Linked DNA regions of Homo sapiens. The protein of the gene in region 2 interacts with the protein of the main gene of each other region in a pairwise test. Each region holds a gene or a part of one and is shown on either strand. Other genes may lie near its edges.

Region 1 (3,500 bases), on a different chromosome or scaffold from region 2:
GAACATTTGTATAAGTTAGATAACGGGAAGTTTCTCATTAAATATGTATGTTTACTGTACTTGAAATATTTTTCATTTTATGTTCAGATTCCTCTGGAATAAGCAGAATTGCAGATGGATTCAATGGAATTTTCTCTGATCATTGTTACAGTGTCTGTTCTATGAGACAGCCAGATTTAAAATATTTTGACAACAAAGGTATATCTAATATTTTCGAAAATATGTTTCTTTAAACTGCTTTTACATTTTTTATTCCTTACTTGAAAATGTGGGTAAAATGTGGATTGATGATTTCAAAACAGACAAGTCTTTGAAATTTGTTACAATGTAAGAAAACAAAGTTGTATTTTTTTAAGAAAGCAAGTAATTTTAACTATTCTTTTTTTTTTTTTTTTTTTTTGAGATGGAGTCTCGCTTTGTCGCCCAGGCTGGAGTGCAGCAGCGCGATCTTGGCTCACTGCAACCTCCGCCTCCCAGGTTCAAGCAATTCTCCTGCCTTAGCTTCCTGAGTAGCTGGGGTTACAGGTGTGCGCCACCACGCTCAACTAATTTTTGTACTTTTAGTAGAGACAGGGTTTCACCATGTTGGTCAGGCTGGTCTCAAATTCCTGACCTCATGATCCGCCCACCTTGGCCTCCAAAAGTGCTGGGATTACAGGCTTGAGCCACCGTGCCCGGCTGTAATTTTAACTTTTAACATTATTTCTGACATATAAATAAAAAAGTGCACTCTCCTAAGTCCATTTTTTGAAGGGGGTGGGGTTAGGGGGAGACAGTCTTCATTCTGTCACCCATGCAGCCATGTCTCACTCCATGGATTATGGCTGACTGCATTCTTGACCTCTTGAGCTAAAGCAATCCTCCCACTCAGCCTTTTGAGTAGCTGGGACTACAGGCATGCACCACGATGCCTGGCTAATTTTTAAAAATTTTTTTGTAAAGACAGGGTCTTGCTGTGTTGCCCAGGCTGGTCTTGAACTCCTGGCCTCAAGCAGTCCTCCCATGTTGGCCTCACAGAGTGCTGAGATTGCAGGTGTGAGCCACGGCTCTCAGCCCTAAATCCACTTTAGTTGGTTAGGAATTGGTGGCAATGCAGGAGTGACTCAGAGTTGGAGTATTTATGTTGAAAGGTTAAGAATAGTGTTAGACACAGTTCTACTCAGCTATACCACATAGTGTGGAAGAAAAGAACAGAGGGTGATTTGGTATTTTTCAATGTTGGATCTTCTATTGGTTCCTCTGTTCTACAGCATTGGTGAATGATAACAATTTACAACTTGCACTTAAGTTAGAGAGTTAGAGACATCGGTATGAATTCCTGTTTAGCTTACTATAGATTCAGATGGCTACATACAGAATGCTTGTAGATATGTGTGTGTATATATATGTGGTACTGTACACACACACTTTGCTGTGTTAGCTGAGAGGGGCTAAAAGAAATGACACCCAGAAGCAGTGAGCATGAGCACATTCAGTGCCCAGCTCTTGGTTTCTAATGCCTCCTTGGGAAAATGGCTGATTCTAGGTCTGGGGCAGGAAATATACAAGATGAACCTGGAGCATTTTGTAGTGCTGGAAAATAGGAAAGTACTTAAAAAAACCTAAACACACGCACTTGACAGGGGTATGCCAAAGGGGCACACGTCAACTTAAAGAGCTCCCAACAGCCAAAACTGAAAACTATTTGGGGACAAAAAATTATAACCCAGAGTATAAAATAAATATCCATGAATTCATGCTGTTATAAATTATTAAATAGAGGAGATGAGGCAAATCTGTGCAGAAAAATTCCAAATTATTAGACTTCATCTTAGCCAAAAGGCCAAGAAGCAGTAAAACTCCAAATTATTTATGTAGCTACTCCTCCCTCTAGGAGGTGGAATATAAGTCTGCACTCCTTAAGCATGGTCTGCACATAGTGACTTCTTACAAAAGGTAAAGTATGGAAAGTAAAAGCACAACTTTAGGCCAGGTGCGGTGGCTCACGCCTGTAATCCCAGCACTTTGGGAGGCTGAGGCAGGCAGATCACCTGAGGTCAGGAGTTTGAGACCAGCCTCAACATGGAGAGACCCTGTCTCTACTAAAAATACAAAATTAGCTGGGCGTGGTGGTGCGTGCCTGTAATCCCAGCTACTCGGGAGGCTGAGGCAGGAGAATTGCTTGAACCTGGGAGGCGGAGGTTGTGGTGAGCCGAGATCGCGCCATTGCACTGCAGCCTGGGCAACAAGAGCGAAACTCCATCTCAAAAAAAAAAAAAAAAAAAAAGACAACTTTATAGTGTTGAAACCTGATAGAGACTTAGCCAGGTGATCAAGATCAACATCAACAACCATAAATCATATTGATAGTATGTACCCTTGATAAGAAGTGATGAAAATGGCAATTTACCTCTGGTCTATCTCCCAGTAATCCATAATTCCAGCGTAATCATTTTAAAAAAAAGAAAGCAGACAAATTCCATTAGCAAGGCATCCTACAGAATACCTGATTAGTACTCCTCAAGGAGTGAGAAACTGCCACAGCCAACAATAGCATAGAGAGACATGGCACCTTAATGGAATGTGGTATCCTGGAACAGAAAAGGGACATTAGGTTAAAAACTAAGGGCATTTAGATGACTTTATTGACTTTTATTAATAAGTTACCAGTATTGGTCATTAATTGTAACAAATGTGCCACACTAATGTTAGATGTTAGTAGTGGAGAAACTGGGATACATGGGACCTCTCCATACTATCCTCTCAGATTTTTCTGTAATTCTAAAACTATTCTAAAAAATAAGGTCTATTTTAAGAAAACATGATGGATGGGCTGAGTGTGGTGGCTCACGCCTGTAATCCCAGGTCTTTGGGAGGCCAAGGTGGGAGGATCGCTTGAGGCCAGGAGTTCAAGGCCAGCCTGGACAACATAGCAAGACCCCATCTCAAAAAACAAGAATTACCCGGGCTTGGTGGTGCATGTCTGTAGTCCTATCTACTCAGGAGGCTGAGGCTGAAGGATCACTTGAGCCCAGGAGTTTGAGGCTGCAGTGAGTGAGCCATGATCATGCCAGTGTACTCCAGCCTTGGCAGACTGAGCAAAACTTGGTCCCTCGCAAAATGTTGAAGCCCAGTTTTCACTATTAACCTGTATTTCAGTTTCCCCATGCTAACTTTGAAACACTGGGGCTGGCCTGAGGGTATAAAGGCTTATTCAAACTCAGTAATTTAAACTTAAAATCCTAAGGAACTTCAAAAAGTGTAATCTAGTCCAAATGGGGCATCAATTCTAAAGCATTTGCTTGTTTGAGCAGATTTTCTGTGTCTGAGGTATATAGATAACTTATCTTTTTATGACTAAATCCAAGTCCTTAGTTCCTGTTGGAATTCAAAATCATATTTAAAAATTGATGCTTTGTTCTATAATTAATGCTTTGATTGTATAAATAATAAGTATTCTTCCAAATCCCTTTTTACAGATGATGATTCTGATACCGAGACGTCAAATGACTTGCCAAAAT
Region 2 (2,688 bases):
AGGAAATTCTGACATATGCTCCAACATTGATGAACCTTGAGAATATTATGCTAAGTGTGAAATAAGCTAGCTACAAAAAGACAAATACTTATTATTCTACTTATATGAGGTACCTAGAGTGGTCAAATTCATACAGACAGGAAGTAGAATGGTGGTTTTGAGGGGCTGGGGAAGGGAAAATGGGAAGTTATTGCTTGACAGGTACAGAATTTCAGTTTTGCAAGATTGAAGAGTTCTGGAGACGAATGGTGGTGATGGTTACATAACAATACGAATCTACTTAATACCATTGAAGTATACACTAAAAATGGTTAGGATAGTAAATTTCATGTTAAGTATATTTCATCAGATTTTTTTAACATTTTTAAATAAACCATAAAAAACTATGGTGCACTCACCCAGTATAGCACTACTCAGTAGTAAAAGGAATGAACTATATATACACACAGCATGGATGATTCTCAAGATAATTATGCTGCATGAAAGAAACCAGACCAAAAGAGAGTATAAATACTTTATGATTCCAATTGTGTTAATTCTAGAAAAGGCAAACAAATCTAAAGTAAAAAATGTAAATCAACGGTTTCCTAGGGAAGGCAAGGAGGGAATGTAAAGGGGCATGAGGTAGCTTTGCAGGTGATGGATACGTTCATTATCATGATTATGGTATTGGTTCCCTGAGTGTACATAATATATGTACAAAACTTACCAAATATGAATAATTATTGCATGACAATCACATATCAACAAAGCATTAAAAGAAACTGTTGCACATAAAAATCCAACTTCCTACTCATTTTAGAAAATCCGATTTGGCAACCCTATATTGACTCTGTCATCTCTTTCTTCTTGCCTTGGGAGCAAAGAATGGCTGGCTACGTCATAGATACTACAGTCCCTATAGTATAGGATCTGCTTTTTCTCAGTCCCTATTTTCCTGCCAGCACAGCACTGGCCTTCAGATGCACAGCACGGAGATGGTAATCCACAAAACCAAAACCTTTAGATTATTTGCTCTGCCAGTAACATTAGTCATAGGACAGAGGTCTGAGGTCCTGAGAATTTCTGCAAACCCTGAATCCTGCACAGCCACATTCAAGGGAGCATTCACGGATGCACATTTAGCAGAGTTCCATTTCTGCTGGTTTGCTATAATCTCGCCTACTCCCTATTAATCACATCCAGTGTTTCTGTACAAATTATGGTCCCAGCTGGGCCTGGTATGTCTTACAGTTAAGAGATACCTGCCTAATGCTGAACTTCAGGGCATATGGCTCCTTGGCAGGTGCTAAACAGCATCTGCTTTACAGTATTGGGGAATATGGGGCACCCCCTGGGAATAAGGGACCCAATTCATGCTGTTCCCACATGCACTGGAGGTTGTCACAACTGCCCCCTCCTCGGGATAAAAATTCACGCCATTCAGACCACAATATTATACCCATAAATTCCTACAATTTTTCCTAGGAGGCCTTGGTGGCAATGCAAATGAGGTCAAATCTGGATTGACAGTTGTTTCTCTGCCATCCTCCTGTCCCCTCCAAGATAATCTGGAGACCCCTTCAGTTTGGTAGATCTTAACTCTGCTCTTGAACCACCCCACACAGTGATCAGAACATGGAAGACTAAAGGCGGCTTTATCATAAGGCCATTATCATCACATGAACCAGGGCAATACACAGGAGATAAGTTGTTGTGTAGAGTAACATGAAGGCTGGACAAATCCTTCACAGGCATAACATGAGACCAACAATGTCCCAGAAAAAGGGAAACCTTCTCTAGAACAAGCTGTTGGCAAAACCCTGCTCAGGTCTTCACAGCCAAAAGCTGGTCATGTCCATGGCTAAACCAGCCATACAGGGCGGGAATGACATCTTCCCAAGGCTTCAGACTACTCCTAATTCCCTTTAGGGATTGGAAAGAGAGAGGAGAGGTCTGCCTTCCCTGAGCACAGTGGAGTGGTGGACACACTCTTTGGAGAGCTGCAGTGTGTGGTGCTGACATGGCTTCTATCACAACCCCAGCAGTGAAAAAACGCTGATAAACTCTACAGTAAGAGAATGTAACTTGTCTCCAGAAAGCTTCCAACACAGCTAGCATTCCTAGGGAACCTCCCCAGGGTGGGTACTTGGATGAACAAGTTTCAACTTGTAGTTGACAGCGCCCTGATAAGGTCTGTTCTCAGAGCTTATCTCTGGTGTGTGCTGTGAACAGGGAAGGAGCACATTCTCCATGCTCCTTTCTCTGATGTGAATCTTCTGATGCCGAATGAGGGTAGGCCTTTGGTTGAAGGCTTTCCCACATTCGCTGCATTCGTAAGGCCTGTCTGGTTTGTGAACTTTCAGGTGCTGCCTCAGATTGGACCTCTGCCTGAAGGTTTTCCCACATTCGCTGCACTCATAAGGCCGCTCGCCGGTGTGAAGTCTCCGGTGGTTATTGAGGCTGGAGCTTTGGTTAAAGAATTTCCCACATTCACTGCACTGGTAAGGCCGTTCACCAGTGTGAAGTCTCCGATGGCTATTGAGGCTGGAGCTCTGGCTAAATAACTTCCCACATTCATTGCATTCATAAGGCCGCTCACCAGTGTGAACTCGCTGATGTTTCATGAGGTCAGAGCTTCGGCTGAAGGCTTTCCCACACTCACCACACCCGTGAGGCCGCTCGCCAGTGTGAACTATCTGATGTTGA

Evidence for each region. Proteins that work in one complex are often made in the same cells at the same time.
Region 1: the proteins of ZNF792 (region 2) and ZNF639 interact in binary tests that used the Homo sapiens proteins (3 or more experiments, as listed by UniProt).

What each region holds. Positions count from the first base shown.
Region 1 is NC_000003.12:179,329,531-179,333,030, forward strand, and holds part of ZNF639 (zinc finger protein 639), read left to right. Parts: intron 1-87; coding exon 88-198; intron 199-3,458; coding exon 3,459-3,500. UniProt on the Homo sapiens protein: Binds DNA and may function as a transcriptional repressor.
Region 2 is NC_000019.10:34,955,854-34,958,541, forward strand, and holds the end of ZNF792 (zinc finger protein 792), read right to left. Parts: coding exon 2,103-2,688; 3' UTR 501-2,102; downstream 1-500. UniProt on the Homo sapiens protein: May be involved in transcriptional regulation.